Linked DNA regions of Homo sapiens: region 2 is linked to region 1. Evidence: fine-mapped expression QTL. A gene starts in region 1. The other region holds a variant in brackets. All regions are shown on one strand. Distances are from middle to middle. Region 1 holds the start of SUSD3 (sushi domain containing 3). Region 2 overlaps SUSD3 (sushi domain containing 3).

Region 1 (5,364 bases):
GAACATGTACTCCCACATCCCTGGTGGAAAACCGAGGGTCCGGGAACCTATGCCTTCTACCAGCAGCTCTTTCGATGCCAATGGGTGGCAGGAGGCCATAGCCAGGCATCACAGGGTGTGTCTGCCTTGCTTTGATTTACACATGCATTCACGGGGTCTCAGTTTCTCCTCTGTAAAATGGACACAGTCCAGTTCTGGGGCAGGAGTTCAGGGGTGAAGCCAAGAAGGCACCAGCAGAGCATGCCTCCTGCTACCCCCTCTCCAGGCCCTTCCTCCAAGGCCCTTCCACGGATGCCAGGGGGGTTACCTACAGCCACTGGAACCCTGCTTTCCTGGACAATCTCCCAGATCAGGGAGTGCTGGGGCTGACCTGGGAGCAGGGCCAGGGGCCAGTCATACAACAAACATGATAAACTCCTACTCTGAGCTAGTCTCCCCCGCGCCCTGCCCTTCTCCCAGGGCGCTCATGGGAGATGAGGGAAGACCACTTCCTGCCTCTCAGGAAGATCAGTCTGTCCACACTACTGTGCTCTTCATATCTACTCTAGGAAAACCAGTGGTAATGGCCCCATTTTAAAGATGGTGGGAAAAACACACATCCCCGTGCTATGTTTTTGGTTTTTGTTTTGTTTTGAGACAGAATCTCGCTCTGTTGCCCAGGGTGGAGTGCAGTGAGGTGATCACAGCTCACTGTAGCCTCGAACTCTGGACGAAAGCAATCCTTCCACCTTTCAGCCTCCCGAATAGCTGGGACTACAGGCGCATGCCACCATGCTCAGCTAATTTTTTTTTTGCATTTTTTGTAGATACGGGGTCTTGCTATGTTACCCAGGTTGGTTTCGAGCTCCTGGACTCAAGCAATCCGCCCACCTCAGCCTCCCAAAGTGTGGGATTAGAGGCATGAGCCACCACTCCTGGTCAGTGGTGTTTTAGTGTCAAATCCTCTCCAAAGGCTCCCAACCCCCCAGCCTCTAACTTCACAGCACATTTCACAGAGCAAGAAACTGAGGTCACATGGCAGGGGAGTGATGGAGTCCAGATGATGGCATCATCCCTGCACCAGAACAAGTACCCTCCCTGGGCTCCACTGGGCCTGTCCACAAGCTTGGGGGCAGGTATACAGTGGGGAAACTGGGGCACATGGGGAAACTGAGGCACAGAGGTACAGCGACTCACCCCAGGTCACAGGGGGGATCCTAACCCAAAACTCCAACAAGGGGGCCAGTGCCTGGGAAGTGGTCATGGTGGTCAGAGGCAGAGCCAGGGCCAGGCAGGATGAACAAGAGCACAGGGTGCCAGACTAAGCTCCATTCCCAGCACAAATTCCAAGGCAAACAGCCTTTTGTATGCAAATATGCCAGAGCCTCCAGATACTCCCTGGCCTTGGGCTGACCTTGGGCAAGTCAAGGCTATCCAAAGGGCACTGGCACCCACGCCCCCAGGCTGTTGTGCCAGTAGAAGGGGCTCCTCAGGTAGTACCAGGCCCTGGGCAGGCCTTGCTCAAACACAGGAGCAAAAGTGCTCATCACCCCAACACCAAATTAGGGACTCTGGACATTAGGCTGCCAGAGTCAAACTAAATAAACCAAATCCACCAGCGCCAGGAACAAGTCTCAGCGCCCACTTTGCTGAGCTGCGGACCTCTGCTCGGTGAATTAGCTCCCTGAGCCGCAGTTTCCCCAACTGTGAGAGGAAGCCATTCTCCTGCCACCTTCCTGCCAGTTCCCTGGGGCTGCAGGCTGACAGTGTGACCTGGTCCAGCCCACCCCACTCCGGGCCTCAGCTTCCTCCTGCGCAGAGCCTTAGCCCCGCAACGCCTGAGACGCCCAGAACCCTCAGGCCTAACGTTCGTGGGCAGTGGCCGCGGAAGTAAGCTTTTGGGATATCTGAGACCCAGAGTTCCGGTTTGGTTCCGTTTCTAAAAGGGTTAGACTTTAGAATCATTCAAGGAGCAAGGCCAGCATTCGAACCCCGGAGCCTTGGGCACGGGAGCAGACAACTCTTTAAGCACATTCTTGAATTCAAACACTTAAAAGTAAAATAAAAAGCAGCTTCTCTTCCTTCCAAAGGCCTCTGAGCCTCCTCCGAGACAGCCGAGGCGATCCCAAGCCTGGCTACAGGGTGACCTCGGACAGCCACTCCCCTCTCGCAGGCTCAGTTTCTCCATCTGTAAAGTGGAGCTGCGCTGGTCACCAAGGAATCGTGAAGATGACACCTCCCTCAGGCGCAGAGAGGGCTCCCGGCTCCCCCCTCCCGCCCCCGCGCCACCCGCCCGCCAGGTGAGGCCGGTTTCGACTTCCCCGGGAGGGGCGCGGAGGGGCCCGGAGCCTGCGGCGTGGAGAGGCTTGGCCGGCCGCGCTGTCCGCAGACGCCCGGGACCAAGGCGCTGCGGCCACTCGGGAACGGGCGCGCGGGCTGCTGCGTGCAGCCGCCTGGTTTCGAACTGCTCGCTGCCAGGCTTCGGCTCCGCTAGGGCGCCTGCTGGGCCGGCGGAGGGTCGAGGAGGTTCGTCCTCGGGGCAGATCGTTGCTGTGGCCCCCACCCACGGCTGTGCGGCCCCGCGACCCCCTCCCCTCGGCTTTCCCGTCTGTGAAATGGGCGCAGAGCCCCGCACGCGGCCACTCGGCCCCAGCCCTCACCTGTGCGGTTCCCTGGGGCAGGCGTGGTGACCCCGGCCCGCCCCCGGGGCCTCGCCTTGCCACGGAGGGTGGCGGCCGCCCAGCGCATCCTGCGCGCTCCGAGGCGCTTGGCGGGGTCTGCCAGGGGAGTGAGCCCGGCTTGTGGGGGCGGGGCCTGGGCCTGGGCCTGGGTGAGGGGCGGGGAGGCCCCGCCCTCCACGCCCGCCCAGGGGCGGTTCCATGCAACTTACAGACCACGCCCACACGTTGGACTGGGGCCGAGGTCCGGCCGGGGGCTGTGGGCGGGGGCCCTTGGGGAGACCAAATACCCAGCGGGCCAAGGCAGCCGGCTGAGCGGAAAGTGTTGCTACTCCGGGGCGTTGCACGCGTGGCTACCTCTGCCCAACACCCTTCCCCCATCCCTTCCTGTTCTCACCTTCACTCCTAGTGTGGTTTTTCCATGTGCTTCTGTGTTTTTATTTTTTGAGCAGGATTTTGCCTTCTCAGGGTGCCGGATTCGGCCGGTACCAAAGGGCAAACAGCAAAACGCCTCCCCGGCCCGCCCCTCCCGTAACCCACTCACCCCCAGAGTCCTGTGTGGACCCAGCCTTCTTTCCCTGTCTCTCACTGGGCCAGGCCGTCTGAGGCACACTGAGGTCTGGGTGCCCTTGTTGTCTTCGGTTCTCACTGAGGGGCCCCCGGCTGGGGGAAACAGGATGGAAAGCCCTGGGGTCTGTCTGCAGGGCCCACCACACCTGGAGGCCTCCCTTCTCCTGGCTTCCCCTTCCCACCCAGCTCCACTTGCAGCAGGCCCAGAGCTGTGATCCGGGCTCTTTCTCTCCCTCTGACCCCACCCAACCCAGGCTTAGCCCCCTGCCCAGGCAGCCACCAAAGGGTTGGGTGTGGTGTCAGGCCTCAGACATCCTGGATCTTGGGCTGCTTGTGGGAGACCACCTGAGCCATGCCTATTCCTGTGGAGCTGGCAAAGGCAATCCTGGCAGAGGGAACAGCAGGTGCAAAGGCCCTGGTTTGGCAATGTGTGGCAGCAGAAGCCCAGTGCGGCTGGCTTAGGCATGCCTCCAGGAGCGCAGAAGGTGGCCCAGGTGGGCCAGGCTGGCTCTAGAGTGCCTGGCAGGTGACCGTGAAGAGTGTGGATGTTCAGGTGGACCATGAAGCAGGGTTCCAGCAGGGCAGCCCCTCCCCGTCTCTGCTTTCCGAGCCCTCCAAAGCTGAGGTTCAGTGTGAAACGTGAGGGGCCCTCCCCCTTTCGCCATCAGGGTTGGCGTCACCCCTGATATGTTCTTCCCACTTGGACTTGTGGGTCACACACGATGGCTTACTTCAATCTCCTTTATTCAAAATCAAGCATGTGTATTCTTTCTGCCATGTCGGGAAGGGCAGGGCCATCAGCAGTGCCCACTCCAGACCACACTCTGGGACCCCAGAATGTCTTGCCAAGTGGCCCCTAGCCCACCTCTCAGGCCTGTGTGGTCCCTTCCCTGGTTTTGCCCACCATGCACCACCAGGCAGAAGGCCACTGCCTGTAGGTGCATGGACAGGGCTGGGAGGGAGGTCTGGGGCAGCCCTCCAATAGCTGGGTGGAGCTAGGTGGGGATGGAAAACACCAGGCTGCCTGCAGCTCCCTAAGCCACCACGCTGTGACCCAGGCCTTCAGGAGCCTTCAAATGCTAAACACCTGGCCATTTAGGAAGTGTGTTTCCTAGAGCTGTGTAACATAGTACCCCAGACTGGGTGCCTGAGAACAACAGAAATTTATTGTCTTATGGTTCAGGAGGCCAGAAGTCTGAGATCAGGGTGTCGGCAGGCCTGCAGTCCCTCCAAAAACTCCAGGAGAACAGCCTTCCTTGTATCATCCAGCTTCTGGCAGTTCCTTGGCCGGTGGCAACTTAACTCCTGTCTACACATGGTGCTCTCCCTGTGTCTCTCTGTGTTCAAATCTCTCTTCTAAGGACACCAGTCATATTAGATTAGAGCCCACCGTAATGTCCTCATCTTAACTTAAGACCCTATAAAGAGTCTGTAAAGACCGGCCAGGCTCAGTGGCTCACGCCTGTAATCCCAGCACATTGGGAGGCAGAGGCAGGTGGATCATAAGGTCAGGAGTTTGCGACCAGCCTGGCCAACATGGTGAAACCCTGTCTCTACTAAAAATACAAAAATTAGCTGGGCATGGTGGCGCGTGCCTGTAGTCCCAGTTACTTGGGAAGCTGAGGCAGGAGAATCACTTGAACCCGGGAGGCGGAGGTTGTGGTGAGCTGAGATTGTGCCACTGCACTCCAGCCTGGGCAACAGAGCAAGACACCATCTCAAGAAAAAAAAAAAAAAAAAGAAGAGTCTGTAAAGACCTTGTCTCCAAATAAGGTCATATTTGGAGGTACTGAGGGTTAGGACTTAAACATATAGATTTTGGGGGACACAGTTCAGCCCCTGACAGGTGGGATCAAGGAGGAAAGAGCATGTTTTTCTGAGCAGTCTGTCGCTTGGTTGGGTTGTGGACATTCAGGCTTGTGGCGCTGGGCCTCCATTTGTACTGTTAGGGGACCTGGAGGTGGCCTAAGGACCTCTGTCATGTCGTTTCCACAGGGAACTGTATGCCTTGCTGTGGCTCAGAACACCCATTTGCTGCCAAAAGGCCATCTTCAGGAGCTATGGGAGGGATCTGAGGCTGGTTCTGGAGGTGGGCCTGTCACCTATTTGAACACTGATCAGGGCCATCTTGTCCACC
Region 2 (5,364 bases), 23 kb before region 1:
ATAGGGTTTAATCCCCAACTCCATACCTTCCCAGGTACCCAGGCCCTCCAGTGGGCCTGGGGCAACTGCTGCCCTGAGCACTGGGGAGCCCGTTTCCTCCTGCTGGGAGCTGCCCTGCACCCTAAGGTGCACAGAGGTCACTCCATCTCCCTGCCGGGCCCTGTTGGCAAGTGGGTCCTTCATCTACACAACCAGGGCGTGGCCCAGGAGTCAGACACTTGCCCCCCTAAGGTGTGGGAAGGGACTTCCTGGGGCTCATTCAGAGTGTGCAGAAACCACCAGGAACCCAGCTGTCTGGCCAGGGCCTGGGATGTCCCAGGCAGAGAAGGGATGCTGGGGAGCAGGAGGTCAAGGGGAGGACATCTTCCCTCCTGCCAGGCCTGCCTCTTTGGTAGCCAGGAGCTGGATCACCCACCTGCTCCACCCTCAGTACTCTTGTGGCTCTCTACTCCCCCAGATACAAACCAAGCCATTCCCCAGGCTGACCAGACCCTGGCCCTGTCCCATCTCCAGCCTCCACACACACACTGGCCTCTGCTCCATGTGGGCTGCCTGGCGGCTCCCACCTCCAGCCCTTTGCATGTCCTCTCCTCCCCTCAGAGGCTGTCTCTCTCCCCTCCCAAAGCAGGCTCTCTTAGTCCTTTCACTTCCGGCATCACCTCTTCCAGGAAGCCTTCCTGGATCACGGCTCCCACCCACAACTAATTCTCAGAAAAACTCTAGTAAGTAGTAGGAATTAAGAAATGATCTGCTTATGCAATGAGTAAGTGAAAGCATCAATAACTGGTGGAGACGAAAGGCAGCTTCGGGGAGGCAGGAGCCAGACTGACTCCACCCAGCCTCACTTACTGGTTGTGTGGGAGTCTACACAAGTTTCTTAACCTGCCTAGTTCTTCACCTGGAAAACGGGATAAAAGTAGTACCCACCCCTAGGTGAAAAGAGTTAATATTTGGAAGAGTTCAGAACAGTGCCTGGCACATTGCAAGTGCTGAGAAGTACTTATGAAATAAAAACAAGGTCAAGAGGCAAACCTCACCTTGCTAAAGGCAATTTACCACCTATGGAGGCAGCCTGGGCCCTGCCTGAGGGGTGGGCAGCCCCAGCACAGGCATATCCCGAGGATCCTGCCTGGGAGCCCGGGGCCCAGGGCTGGGGACTCAGGGAACTCTGCCTCCATCGGCTTTGTAGCCCTGGGCAGGACCCGCCTTCTCTGAGTCCCCATGAAGCTGGGCTGAGTGCTCGAGGTCTCCATGTGTGAGAGAGCTCCGGGAAGGGGCTCTGCCCTAAGGGTCCCCCTCCCAATCCCCCTCAGCCTCACCACCACTTCCTGCCTCTTGAGCTGACTGTCAGAGTGGCCCCTAAGCCGGCCTCCTCCAGCCTCTCACGGCCCTGTCAGGGTGCCTCCCTCCCGCCCTGGCTCTCTCACTCCCCAGAGGGGGTGAACACAGCCCTGTACACAGATCTGTGGCCACTCTTGGACGGGACGCACACGTCCGACCACACACTGCACAAGTTCCCGCAGTGTAAGAGGCAGGGTCTGTGGCGCTGGGACCAGGCAGAAGTGTGGCCCCAAACAGCACCCCTGGGAGCCCCTCGGCATCATGCTCTGGCCAGCAAAGCCCCTGCGGCAGCGGCAGCAGCTGTGGCTGCCATCATCCTGGACACCATGTTGCCTTGAGAGGCAATTGTTCCTTCCCCCATTCCATGGGCACTTTCCCAGTTATGACACAGGATGATCTGGTCCCAGTGCTGTAATGGGGAGTGGGGATCACAGGTGGGGCAATGGAGGAGCTCTGAAAGTGGCTTTGGATATCTCACTACCCAAAAGGAAAGGCATTAGCCACCATGGCCCCAACAAAACTAAAATAAAAAGGAAAGGGGGTCAGGCACGGTGGCTCACGCCTGTAATCCCAGCACTTTGGGAGGCCGAGGTGGGCAGATCACGAGGTGAGGAGATCGAGACCATCCTGGCTAACACAGTGAAACCCTGTCTCTACTAAAAATACAAAAAATTAGCTGGGCATGGTGGCGGACACCTGTGGTCCCAGCTACTTGGGAGGCTGAGGCAGGAGAATGGTGTGAACCCGGGAGGCGGAGCTTGCAGTGAGCCGAGATCGCGCCACTGAACTCCAGCCTGGACGACAGAGCAAGACTCCGCCTCAAAAAAAAAAAAAAAAAAAAAAAAAGGAAAGAGGCCTAAAAAATGTACAGCCAATTGATGGGTCAGGTGCCCTCCCACAACACATGGAGCAAAACATTTGGAGGTAATTCAGCAGAGAAAACAGAAAATGACTCATGCCAGCAATGGCACTGGTGAGCCAAGGCTGGAGAAAACATTCTTCCTCGACATTCATCAAAGAAATGCTGACGGAAACTACCCACACAACTTGTAGCTACTGTAAGAAACAAATGATAAACAAATGGTCAGCACTCAGTGATGATGCAGTTACCAGAAAAATATGGCCACATTCACTTGTACCAGAGCTCCCAGGGAAAGAATGTGGTCATAAAATATTCAGACTGTTGGGCCTAAACAATCGATTCCTAGGATCAGCCCCAAGAGTTGTGGTCTTGAAAAAGAAAAACAGCACTAAGCAAAAAGACACTGACCACGCCTGACCACTCAACAGGGGAGGGTCTAGCAGATATTGGAAGCTTTGGAATAATGGGCTGCTGTAAGGAATGATAGCCTGGAGGCCTCAGACCACCATGGTGACCTGGAACGTGTTGCTAAGTGCAGAAGTATCAATGGCAGCATTTCGGCTACATCCTTGTTGATGTAATACACACTTGAAGCGTCAGGAAAGGAGACAGAAAGGTGAATTCCTTCCCTGCAGGTGTTGGCCAGACCCAGCACGGTGTGTGTAACCCAGGGCCACAGAGACCACCATCTCCTGTGCCTCAGTTTCCCCATCTGCATAAGGTCGTAAGAGTGGCAACGACAGTAACAGCCAGTATTCAATGAGCTCTCACCCTGGGCCTGGCGAGAGAGGCACACACCCGGACTCAGGTAACCTCAACAACTTGAAAGGGTGAGCGCTACTGCAATCCTCACTTTACAGGTGAGGAAACCGAGGCATGGAGCTGTTAGTCATACAGTGAGGCCATGAGGGCTGGGACCAAGTGCACTGCAGCCTCGAAAGACTCCAGCAGGAGGGCCTGAAGGAAGGGAACACAAGCTCAATGATGTCGTC[T/A]GGATGCCCGCCCAGACCCCGGTGTCTAAGCGCTGTTCTCCACCCACAGAAACAGGGCTCCCAGAGCAGTGGCCAACCGCAGAGATGGGCACAGAAAGCATGAGATGGGCCTGGAACATCTTGTGCAAGGCAGGAAGCACTCACAGACTGATGGGGATGGATCAGAAGGACACAGGCCATGGCTTGGCAGAGCTCCTACTGCCAAGAACTGGAGCCCACAAAAAGTGTGCTTGAAAATAATGTGGGGGAAGGGGCATGAATGAGGTTGCCTGGCTTAGCTGGTGACCATGAGAATGGGAGGCAGGGACAGGAGATCTGTGACAATATTCTACTTTTGTGTATTTGTGAACTTTTCCCAAAATAAAAGTTTCAGAAAAGAATATTCATGAGTTCATGTGATGCTAAAACAACAAAACAAAATCAAAAGAAAGGAAAGAAAAAAACAGCTCATCCTCATCCCTGATAGAAGGAATGTCAGAAGTGCAACAGAATTAACAAAGTCACCATTCTGTAATGCCCAAGGCAAGAGCGGATCTGGCAGGATCAGCCTTGCACGCTGAGACCACAAGTCAGAGGCCGCTGAGACAGTGGAGGGACACTTGCAGAGCCCCTTCCTCAGGCTCTGACAGTGGAGGGACCTGGGGGGCTTCGCCTCAGCCAAGAGACCCCATTCCATGTGGCCCGTGGGGGCAGCCTGGCCCATGTCTGTGATCTGCACATGTAGCCCTGCACCAGAAATGCAGAGCCGGGCCTGGTCACACAGAAACACCAGACAGACGCAGACAGGAGCCTCTGCATGCGACCACTGGCCTGGAACCCTCAGAAGACTATGCCATGAAAAACTGAAGGCCCATACCAGTTTAAGGAGCCCAGAGACCTGGTGGCTGAGTGCTGCGTGTGATTATGGACATTCTCCACTCAACAGGCCACGTGCAATCAATATTAGATTTCTGTTAGTTTTGTTTTTTTTTTTTTTTTTTTTTTGAGACGGAGTCTCGCTCTGTCGCCCAGGCTGGAGTGCGGTGGCACAACCTTGGCTCACTACAAGCTCCGCCTCCTGGGTTCAAGTGATTCTCCTGTCTCTGCCTCCCAAGTAGCTGGGATTAAAGGCACACTCCGCCACACCCAGGTAATGTTTGTGTTTTTAGTAGAGACGGGATTTCACCATGTTGGCCTCGAACTCCTGACCTCAGGTGATCCTCCCACCTCAGCCTCCCAAACTGCTGGGATTACAGGTGTGAGCCACCAAGCCTGGCCAATCAGTATTAAATTTCTGGACTCAGAAAAAGAATGTCCTTATATTGGTTCAGGGCAAAAAAATGTATGTGTGTATTAAGAGAGAGAGAAAGGAGAGGGACAGAGCACGGGAGGGAGAGCAAGTGACTGCAGCTCAGTGCAGAGCCCTGCTGGGTGTAGGTGGAGGGAACACAGGTGTGTAGAAGCTTCAGCTTCCCTGGAGGGTGGACCCTCCAGATGAAAACACTGCTGGGGGCAGTTCTGAGTCCTAGAATGTCAGAGTCAGGACAGAGTGCTACAAGGACCACCAGCCTCTTGTTTTAGAGATGGGAGTTAAGGTTCTGGGTGGGCTAGGCGTGTGGGAGCAGCAGGCTCTCAGCGTGTGGGAGCAGCAGGTGGCCCGGGGCCTGACCAAGCTGGACCCCTTGTCCCCCAGCATGTCCCCTACCCAGACCCGGGCTCACGTGGTGAAGCTGTGGTTGTCGTGCGCCTGGCTGGGCCCGCTCACGGGTTTGTTGAAGTGCTTGAGGCCAAGGTATGCGGCCTGCACCGTCTCCAAGTCCTCATCTTTCAGCTGGGACCACAGCTGGGCTGACCTGGAGGAGAGTTTGGGAGGAAGGACTCTGAGCATGCAGGTGTATCCCTGACGGTGGTGGAAACAGGCTCCATGTAGGCCCAGGGCACCGTCTGCAGGACCAGTGCAGGCTGGCAAACCTCTCAAAGAGCTGGGCAGTGGATGTTTTTGGTGTGGTGAGACACATGATTTCTCCCACAGCTAAACTCTGCAATTGCAGCCCAAAAGTAGCCACACACCAGTAGACAATGAACATGGCTGTGTTCCAATAAAACTTTACTTACAAATACAGGTGGTGGAAAGTTCTAGGGCTGGACAGTGCTAATGGCTGCACTACATCGTGAACATACTTAATGCTA

The links.
Region 2: its variant is fine-mapped to the expression of SUSD3 in whole blood (INTERVAL, PIP 0.95).

The regions. Positions count from the first base shown.
Region 1 is chr9:93,056,106-93,061,469 of GRCh38, reverse strand. SUSD3 (sushi domain containing 3) reads right to left here and starts at 2,769. Exons shown (of 5, transcript NM_145006.4): 1 at 2,640-2,769. The coding sequence starts at 2,727. RefSeq lists enhancers at 595-644, 713-1,693, 1,694-2,674 and silencers at 2,185-2,594, 2,605-3,054.
Region 2 is chr9:93,079,134-93,084,497 of GRCh38, reverse strand. SUSD3 (sushi domain containing 3) reads right to left here. Exons shown (of 5, transcript NM_145006.4): 4 at 4,896-5,027. Among named protein-coding and RNA genes, the nearest start is that of CARD19, 14 kb to the left of the region's middle. RefSeq lists an enhancer at 1,343-1,971. The variant T/A (reference allele first, on the strand shown) is at 3,196.